3 linked regions of the Homo sapiens genome follow. The protein of the gene in region 2 interacts with the protein of the main gene of each other region in a pairwise test. Each region holds a gene or a part of one and is shown on either strand. Other genes may lie near its edges.

Region 1 (3,653 bases), on a different chromosome or scaffold from region 2:
AGCTGGCTGTACGTAGAAACAAAACCAGATGCCTACTGGTGCATTTAAAAATCAACGTTATTGAGACGTAATTAACATACTATACAATTCTTCCTTTTCCATGTACAGTTTAAATTCATTCACAGAGTTGTGCAGCCATCATCACTAACTCCAGAATGTTTTATTTTTATTTTATCCCCCAAAGAAACCCCAGACCCATGAACAGTCACTCCTCATTCCCTCTCTCCAGCCCCTGGCACCCACTCATCTGCTTCCTGTCTCTGTGGATTTGCCTATCTGGACATGTCCTAGAAATGGAATCATGTGCTCTGTGGCATTTTGTGACTAGCTTCCTTCACTGAGCATCATGGTTTCAAGATTCGTCCATGTCATAAGATGAATCAGTCCTTCATTCCTTTTCATGGCTGAATAATATTCCATTGTGTGCATAGACCACAATTTCTTTATCCATTCATCCCTTGATGGACATTTTGGGTTTCTTCATGTTTTGGCTATTGTGAATAACACTGCTGTGAACATCCATGGACAAGTCTCTATGTGTGCAGATATTTTCGTTTCTCCTGGGTGTGTAGCTAGGAGTAGAATTGCCAGGTCACATGGTAACTGGACGTTTCACTTTTTGAGGAGCTGCGAGACTGTTCTCCACAGTGGCTGCCCCATTTTACCTTCCCGCCAGCAGTGTTGGAGGGTTCCACCTTTTCATCGTGGCTAGCACTGGTTATCATCTCCTTTGTATTCTAGCCACCTAGTGGGTGTGAGGCAGTATCTCTTGGTGGTTTTGATTTGCATTTCCCTGATGACTAATGACGCTGAGCCTCTTTTGATGTGTTGAGTGGCCATTTGTATGTCTTCTTTGGAGAAATGTCTGTTCACGTCCTTCGCCCATGTGTGATCGGGTTATCTCTGTCGCTGAGTTGTAAAAGCTCTTTGTATATTCTGGATACTGCACCCTCATCAGATGTGTGGTTCACCAGTCCAGAGTTTTCTCCCAGTCTGTAGGTTGTCTTTTTCACTGTCTCGATATTGTCCTTTGGTGCACAAAAGTGTTGAGTTGAATGAGGTTCAGTTGATCTGTTTTTCTCTTGTTGCTCATGCTTTTGGTGTCCTAGTGAAGGAACTATTGCCATATCCAAGGTCGTGAAGTTTTATCCCATTTTCTTCTGAGAGTTTCATACTTTGGGCCACACTACACATCAGCCTGTGATGTGCTCTGGGTTGGTTTGTCTGTATGGTGTGAGGGGTCCCTCTCCTGCACATAGAGAGAAAGAGAGAGAGAGCTGGTTGCCCCGGCACCATTTGCAGAAGAGCCTCGCCTTTCTCTCCAGCGGCTCATTTTTGACTTTCCGCTGTCTCTGCCCTGCCCCTCCCCGCCCCGCCACCCACCCCTCTGGGGCTTTGCAGATGCAGAGGCCGTGAAGAAGGCAGCCTTGGAAAAGAAGGAGGAGGAGCTGGTGAGCGAGCGCACAGAAGCCTTCACTATTGCCCGCAACCTCCTGACAGCGGCTGCAGATGCCATTGAGCGGATCATGTCGTCGTACAAGGAGGTACCCCTGGCCCAGCCCCACCCTTGCCATCCTTGCCATGCTTCTCTCCCTGCAACTGGCAGGGGCTGAGCCAGGGTCACCCTCCCTCAGGTGACGGAGCTGGCTGGCTACACAGCCCGGGTGCACGAGATGTTCCAGGTATTTGAAGATGTTCAGCGCTGTCACTTCAAGAGGCCCAGGGAGCTAGAGGACGCTCAGGCGGGGTCTGGGACCATAGGCCGGTCTGGTGTCCGTGTGGAGGGCCCCCTGAAGATCCGAGGTAAGGCTGTCCCCTCCCTATGAGTGACCCCGCCCCTGCTGCTGCTGCAGGTGCTGACCTGCTGCCCCAGCTCCTCCTATTCCCGCTCCCTCACTCAGGGACCTCCATGTGCTTCTGGCCCATCCCAGTCCACCCAGGACGGGAGGGCTGCCGGGCAGGGTCTTTGAGGACTTCGGCCTGGTCGAGCTGGGCCCCTGGAGGGTTTCCTGCAGAGAGGTGCTGGTCCGCCCGCCTTCCTTCCCAGACAGTAGCTGCCGGCCACCGTACTGACTCGCCCTTTGAGGGCCTCAGCCTGGATTATTCATTCAAAACAAGGGGGATGTGGTCCCCTCACCCATGCAGGACAGCAAGAGAAAGTTCCAGTCAGTGTGCCAGCTGCTGGCTGCCACGGGAGGCAGGTGCTGCAGAAGGGAGTGGCGGCCCAGGGCACTGTATTAGACACTGGGGGAAGAGTTCAGCTTGTTGGAAGACCTGGCTGTGTTCCCTAGGGACCCTGGACCACAGGCTGCTGGTCAGGAACCAGCTGGCATGCTGCCAGGGATGGGAATGAGGGCGTGCAGCCAGGGGCACGCAGACTCCCCAGAATGCAGAGGGGTCGCCACCACTCCCTCTCCACCCCAGCCCCGCTGTGCTGTCTCTGCAGGCCAGGTGGTGGATGTGGAACAGGGGATCATCTGCGAGAACATCCCCATCGTCACGCCCTCAGGAGAGGTGGTGGTGGCCAGCCTCAACATCAGGGTAGGTCCAGCGGGGAGGGCGCCAGCCACGCACATATGCAAGCCTCAGCCCTTGGCTTCCCGCCTGTCTGTGCTGGCAACAGCCATTGTCCCTAGATGTACGTGGCAGGTGGGCCAAGGTCAAGGTGAGAGACCAACGTGTCTCTGACTGTTCATCCTGGGGCAACAGAGGCAGGGCTCATAAAAGAGACTAGTGATACCAGGATTGACCAAGGTTCACCCCGGCGTTCCTGGCCCTATCATCTGATGCCAACTCCCCACACTCCTAAGAAAGCCAAGACCCGGGTGGGGGGGCTCTGGTTCAAACCTTGCCGCTCGACCTCCCTCGGAAGGCCACAGCAAGGAATCCACAGATCACCTGTGTCCCCAGCCAGGGGTTTGGACAGGGCTGGGGAGTAATGGAGTGAGGGGGAGACTGGGGTGGAGGGACAGGTAGAGAAGTGACAAGGAATCACTCATTCATTCACTCATTTAACCAATGTGCCCTGAACTCTGAGCCGGGCACCAGAAACCCGAGGTAAATCAGGAGACCTGCACTCAGGGAGTCTTCACTGTGGAGGGGCACTAAAGTGTTACAAAGGGTCTCCAGGTAGACAGCTGTTCAAGGGACAGTGGGGGTCACAAGAAGAGTGGTCAGAGTCCCTGGGGGTGGTGGGGGTGGGATGAAGCCTTGCCCAGGAGTTGCTGTGAGCGAGTGGGCAGGCAGCTGAGGGTAGAGGAGTGAGGGGCCGTGGGCCTGAGGGGCAGGTCACGCAGGAGGAAGCAGAGAGGAGGGGCATGCCAGGGAGGAGGGGGCCGGCACAGGTGGTTACCCCTCACCGCTCGCAGCGGCCCCTCCTAGGATGTCGGGGGAGCTGATCACCAGTGAGTCCAAGGAAGGTGGTTTCCAGGCTGGCCCCGGGCAGCACAAGCAGGCAGGGGCAGCGGGCAAGCTCATGGGGCCCCTGCGCGCAGGGCCACATATGCTCAGGGAGCCGGGTATGCGAGATGGGGCAAGGCCCAGGCCCCACCCTTCAGGAGGGGACAGTCAGGTGGCTTCATTAGCATCCTGTGGCTGCGGTCACAAAGCGTTACAAACTTTGAGTGGCTTTCCCAGCAGAGATGGCCTCTCTC
Region 2 (3,653 bases):
GAAGCATGCAGGTGAAAGAACTGCCTAACAGCGTGCAGGAGAGAATGAGTGAAATACATTCCACAGGCAAAGGGCCCACCAACCAATAATAGCAAAACCATCCAGCAATAGGAAAAGAGAAGTTTTTGCCTAGTGATAGATTCATAACTCTTTCAGGTCTTACATTCTTCTAGAAGGCAGGACTGTTGGCCAAGGACTAAGCACTCCCGATTTTAAGCAGGCATGCCTAAAAGAGGATGACAGAGCAGGGAAAGATACCTTCGAGCAGGGTCGAGTGGTATGGGAAAACACTGGAGTGGTGAAGGAAGACTTGAAGGGGGTCACAGAGGAGTGAGGGGATCAAAGGTGAGAAAAGAACGTAAATGTTGTAGAATCAGAGCCTGAGAAGGAAACACCCAACGGTGCTAGTGGTAGTAGTGGGGCCTCTAGGCATGGAAATGGGAAGGTAGATGAGATGAGCCATATGTTGAATTTGAGTATTAGAGACAAATGTTTCACTTCGATTTTCCAGAGAGGGTTGGAGCCAGGATTGGGGCAGGGAGGTGACATGTCACCGAGAAGGAGAAGCTGGCACTGCAGATCTGGACATGAGTGACAAGAGTGGAGCCAACAGGTCACCAGAGGGCATGGTGCCCAGGGAGTGGGCCAGGAGGTAGTGCCCATTTCTGTGGCCTTTAGTTTGAGGACGAGGTTCTCTTTCATTCCTGGAAGGAAATGTTCAAGGTTTCCTCACAAGGAGCCCTGGGACCATCCACAGCGCTGGTGTTTTCTGGGCAGCAAGGCTTCCTGGGGTCCTAATTACTCCTTGGGCTTTACCGTGATGTGATCGCAGACATCTCATAGCTAGCTCCTCCGAAGAGACAAATGGCTCGTGAACCCGCAGTTCTTCAACAAACTGGGTGTAGACCAACAGTGATGGGTACAAAAAGAGGGAGACGGAGAAGGGTGTTCTTCCCATCTGTCCCAGTGGGATTCATGTTTCTCAGAGGGTAAAAAGAAAACAGAACTTGACCACTTGACCTTTACTTTCCTTTTACAGCAAATGGTTGTTCCAGAAAAAATGCAGCAACACCTGAACTCTTCTAAAGAAAAAGAAGACAAAATGATCTAGTGCATCTCTGCCATCCTGTTGAAGATCCTATTTGAAAAAAGGGAGACACAGAGAAAGGTTTTTTTTTTTTTTTAAAAGTGATAGAATAATCCAAAGTTAAAAATTCAACACAATGGAAAATATTAATTCAATCCATGCTGCAAACAAGCTTCTTGGGTTGCTTTATGAATTGTATGAGCTGAAGGACAGTACCTTCCATATGGTCATATCCTCACAACGCCTCTGGACATATTTTCCTATCTGACCGTCTTTCCCACCTGGCCTCAAACTCCTGGGCTCAAGTGATTCTCCCACCTCGGCCTCCCCAGTAGCTAGGACCACAGATGCATGCCACCATGTCTGGCTAATTTTTAAAAATATTTTGTGCAGACAGGGTCTCACTATGTTGCCTTGGCTGGTCTCAACAAACTGGGGCTCATCAGTAAATTGGGGCACTCTTTTCAGGGCTGATAACCTATTCCCCTGGATTCCCAAAACACTTTCTTAGTTCTTTCAAAGAGGTGAGCAAGTTTGCCTTGAGGCTAGAAGAATGGAGAGAAGACTGGGCATGGTGGCTCCTGCCTGTAGTCCCAGCACTTTGGGAGGCCAAGGCAGGTGAATGGCTTGAGTTCAGGAATTTGAGACCAGCCTAGGCAACATGGTGAAACCTCATCTCTAGAAAAACTGAGCCAGGCATGGTGGCACACACCTGTAGTCCCAGCTACTCAGGAGGCTGAGGTGGGAGGATCACCTGAGCCTGGGAAGTTGAGGCTGCAGTGAGCTGTGATTGTGCCACAGCACTCCAGCCTGGGCAACAGAGGGAGATCCTGTCTCAATAATAATAATAATAATTAATAATGTCTAGGACTTAGATGGGCAAAGAGGTGAGGTGAATATTAAGTATTTTGGAGCAGAAAGTAACAACTGTTTATGTCGGAACATCAGAAAAAGAAGACCATGGGTCAGACACAAATGCTCCCCCGCCTGCCCCCTGCAGTCTGTTCTCAGCACAGCCCCCTCTGTGGACTGTTGAAATGCGGCTTCTCTGCTCAGTGCCCTCCGATGGCACCACCTCACTTAGAAAAAAAGTCCTTGCAGTGACCTCAAGGCCCTACCTAATCTGCCCACCACCCACCCTTCTGACCATATCTTTTTTTTTTTTGAGACAGAATTTCGCTCTTGTTGACCAGGCTGGAGTGCAATGACACGATCTCGGCTCACCACAACCTCCACCTCCCAGGTTCAAGTGATTCTCCTGCCTCAGCCTCCCGAGTAGCCGGGATTACAGGCATGCACCACCAAGCCCGGCTAATTTTTTTTGTATTTTTAGTAGAGACAGGGTTTCTCCATGTTGGTCAGCCTAGTCTCGAACTCCCGACCTCAAGTGATCCGGCCTCCCAAAGTGCCGGGATTACAGGCGTGAGCCACTACGCCTGGCCCTGACCATATCTTTTATGACCTTCTCCCTCACTCAGCTTCAGCCACACTGGCCTCCTTGCCATTCTTCAAACACACGAGATGCACTCCTGCCCCAAGCGCTTTGCTGTCCTCCTGCCTCCAATCCTCTGCCTCCTCCCCAATATCCACAGCTCAGTCCCACACTTCTTTCAAGGTTTTCCTCAGAAGTCACCTTCTTGGTGGCTCATGCCTGTAAGCACTTTGGGAGGCCAAGGCTGGTGGATCACTTGAGCCCAGGAGTTTGAGACCAGCCTGACCAACATGGTGAAACACCCCCTCTACTAAAAATACAAAAATAGCCAGGTGTGGTGGTGCATGCCTGTAATCCCAGCTACTCGGGAGGCTGAGGCATGATAATTGCTTGCACCTGGGAGCAGAGGTTGCGGTGACAACTTTGTGCCATGGCATTCTAGCCTGGATGACAGAGTGAGACTATGCCTCAAAAAAAAAAAAAAGTCACCTTCTCAATGAGGCCTTCCCTTAACATCTCTACTTAAAATTGCAAACCCCAACACTCCTTATCCCTTTCCTTGCTTTATTTTTCTCCAAAGCATGTATCTCTATCTGATAAACTACATACTTTATTTGTGTAGATACTGTTTGTCTCCCTTAAAAACTCCGTGAGATCAGTAATATTGTCTCTTTGATCACTCCCATATCTCCGGTACTTAAACAGAGCCTGACATACAGCAGGTGCTCAATATAAGTTGAAGAAATGAATTCAGGAAGGAATGAAAAACCATTAGCAGTAGGCTAAGGAACTTAGACTTTGTCCTGCTAGTAACCGAAAATCATTAAAGGATTTTTCTCCCCCTCTTATAGTCGATATCAGCTAGGAAAACGGAATGAGTTTCCTTTCAGCATGGCAGACAAGAAAAAGTATAGAACACTGAGTCAGATGCTCATATATTTAAATTCTAGTTTTGCCACTTAGAAGCTAAGTGACCTTTGATAAGTTTTGTAATCTCTCTGAAACTCCATTGCTTCTCCTGAAATACCTATGACAGTAATTCATAGGGTTATTGGGGGAATTAAATGAAACATGTAGAAGTGTCTCAAACAGTACCTGGAAAAAATGTTTTAATAAATGTTTGTTTCCCTCCCT
Region 3 (2,826 bases), on a different chromosome or scaffold from region 2:
TGTGCTCCTGGCAGATGCAGGTGCTGTGAGACCCTGACCAGGGCAGTGGCTGTCCATACACCCTTCTTCCCCTTTTCTACAGTTCTTTCATTCCATCAGCATTTTCACTTATCACAGACTTTGAGAAATACTTGTTCTTACTGAACTTTTTCTTCTAGTAGTGACATGATATAAATAAGGGCACAAAACAAGTAGGAACAGAGCACAGCAAAGTCATCATGGAAGCAATTCCAGACTCTATGCCACTGTTTGCCCAAGTGTGGTCCATGGTTAACAGGTATTAAGGTAAACGGCTCCGCGGTCAAGGAAGTCTGGGAGCTGCACACACTAGCACTTCAGAGGTTCCAAATGACCTGGGTCCTTTAGTTTGCTGATGTGCTTTACAAGCCAGTGGTATACAGGACTGGTGGCAGGACCATTTTTTTGTGTAAAATCTTGCGGGATTAGTGTTCTACAAATATGCTTACAGAAACACTTGTTCTAGATCAGCAACTGGGGGTAGGAGGATGCCACTGGAAAAACCTATTTACTATAGCTACTAACCACCACCCCCAACACACACAGCAGAACATAAAGTTTGAGAAAATCTTCTCAGCTAAGAATTTTAAAATGAGAAAAAAAAAGTTGACAAATACCATCTATGATAAAGACATAAAATGATTTATAGTTGGGGAGAATTTATGATCAAAGGATTGTCTCCAATAGGGTATATCTGAGGTTCCATACCAGGAGCGTCATTAAAATTGATGCCAATTTTATGAAATATGTTCATTTTGAAGCAGATGTGTATTAGTAGACAAGCCAATAATTTAAACATACTCAATGAAAATTCCATAGTGCAATTTTATCTAAGGTATTTTATGATTACTCTCTTAGAGCCACAGTTTTAAGCAGCTTTTTCCTAAACTAGGCTCGTTATTAATTTTCAACACTTCATACTATGATGAAGACATCACATACTTTAGACAGCCTTAATAGAACAAATTATTCAACAAAGTTGATTATACGTTCTATAAAGTAAATCACATTCTCTCATTGAGTGAGCTGAGTCTTTTTGAGTGTGGGGACAGAGTCCCTGCAGTCAGGAGCTCCAAGGCATAGAACTGCCTGCCCTGCTCTGTCCAGCAGGTAATGCTGCATTCCACAGGCCTCTTCTTCAGCCTTGCCCACTCAGCAGAGTACCTCAGGTTGTGACCATGAACGACTGATGAGAGTAACTTCTGACTTGCTCAGGGGATCCTCTTGCCATCAATTCCCTTCAGTATGACCAACCGCAGTGGCTTACTCGCTTCTTGTCCAGACCATCCACCATCTGTCTGCCCCATGATGCTCTCAAACCCCAAAGTCCTAATATCCCAGGCCTCTTTGTCTGTGAGAGGAAATGGTTCCCTCACTTTAAGTTCTGTAGGCTAATCAGAAAGGGATCTCTCTATAGTTTCAAAAAGTGAAATTTTACTTGCACTACAGAAATAAGAAACTTACAGATTTGTCCTTGAAGACCTACTAACCTGCAACTTTAGGGTCCTGAAAGAGGATTAGTATGTTTATAAGTACTTTTATTACAGTATTTTTTATTTGTTTCGGAGACAGGGTCTTGCTCTGTTGCCCAAGCTGAAGTGCAGTGGTGCAATCACAGCCTGCTGCAGCCTTGGCCTCGCAGGCTCAATCAATCCTCCTGCTTCAGCCTCCTAAGCAGCTGGGAACACAGGCTCATGCCACCACATCTAGCTAATTTTTATTTTTTGATAGAGATGAGGTCTCACTGTGTTGTCCAGGCTGGTCTCAAATTCCTGGACTCAAGCAATCCTCCCACCTCGGCCTCCCAAAGTGCTGGGATTACAGGCATGAGCCACCACGCCCGGCCACAGTATTTTTTAAATGCCAGTTAGGTTTTATAAGATGTAGAATTCTATAACTCCAACACAAGAATGACAGGTGATGCTTGCATGACTTTGGCAACTAACTTCCAGGAAGCCCTAGGATTTACAAGATGCTTTGAGTGACATTAGTCACAAGAGATTGTTGCAACTAAACAGAACACAGGATGATAAAGAATGAATGAGGAAGAATGAAGACCACTGGTGAGATGGCACTTCTGACCAGGGGCCTACTCCTGGAGGTCAAGTCCTTGAGTCCCATTGGAGGAGGAGTAACCCCTCCCTTCCCCACATAGAGTTTTAGTGCCTGAAACCTCACAGGGAACCAAGAAGATCTAATCTCACCTCTCTGGACTACAGAGGACTGCCGGTAGCCCTGGGAAGTACCAAGCTCTTGAAAGCTTCACACAGTGATGGTGGCAGCAGAGGCAGGAAGTGAGCAGTGCCATTAACTGGAGTGAAGGATTCAGTGAGGTTCTGAGACTCCCTTACAACCCCGCAGTTTGTATTTAGTCTAATACATTCTCCTCCCCTAGCTCAAAGTTCCAAGATTTAGATAAGCACAATTTAAGACAGGTTCCCTGAATACCCTATTAGGGAATGTTGGGACGTAGTTGAAATGGCAACTTTTATTAATGATGAATGGCAATGACTTTTAAGTTTGATCACAGAGTGTTTGCATATTTTCTTACTATTTTTGGTATGATTTAAAAATTATTGGTTCATTAACCATTTAAAAGAGGAATAATTCAGTAGAGGCACTAGGAGGTTGAACAGGATCATTCTTCAGTAATATTCTGCCTGGAGAGAGGAAAAAAGGATTCAGTTTACTCAGCTGCTTTAAAAACCTACCCACAACCAGCCTTGCAACACAAGCTCAGCACTGGGACTCAGACACCTCCTGTCTGAAGAGACTCTACATGCATTGTACAAAAAAGGACTACATATC

Evidence for each region.
Region 1: the proteins of PXT1 (region 2) and ABCD1 come close enough for resonance energy transfer, tested with the Homo sapiens proteins (one large-scale study listed by BioGRID).
Region 3: the proteins of PXT1 (region 2) and ALDH3A2 come close enough for resonance energy transfer, tested with the Homo sapiens proteins (one large-scale study listed by BioGRID).

Annotation. Positions count from the first base shown.
Region 1 is NC_000023.11:153,734,711-153,738,363, forward strand, and holds part of ABCD1 (ATP-binding cassette sub-family D member 1), read left to right. Parts: intron 1-141; exon of another isoform or gene 142-1,401; coding exon 1,402-1,544; exon of another isoform or gene 1,545-1,634; coding exon 1,635-1,803; exon of another isoform or gene 1,804-1,901; coding exon of another isoform or gene 1,902-2,201; exon of another isoform or gene 2,202-2,446; coding exon 2,447-2,541; exon of another isoform or gene 2,542-3,653. UniProt on the Homo sapiens protein: ATP-dependent transporter of the ATP-binding cassette (ABC) family involved in the transport of very long chain fatty acid (VLCFA)-CoA from the cytosol to the peroxisome lumen.
Region 2 is NC_000006.12:36,390,737-36,394,389, forward strand, and holds part of PXT1 (peroxisomal testis-specific protein 1), read right to left. Parts: intron 1,139-3,653; coding exon 1,034-1,138; 3' UTR 1-1,033.
Region 3 is NC_000017.11:19,675,410-19,678,235, reverse strand, and holds the end of ALDH3A2 (aldehyde dehydrogenase family 3 member A2), read right to left. Parts: intron 2,679-2,826; coding exon 2,664-2,678; coding exon of another isoform or gene 2,611-2,663; 3' UTR 640-2,610; downstream 1-639.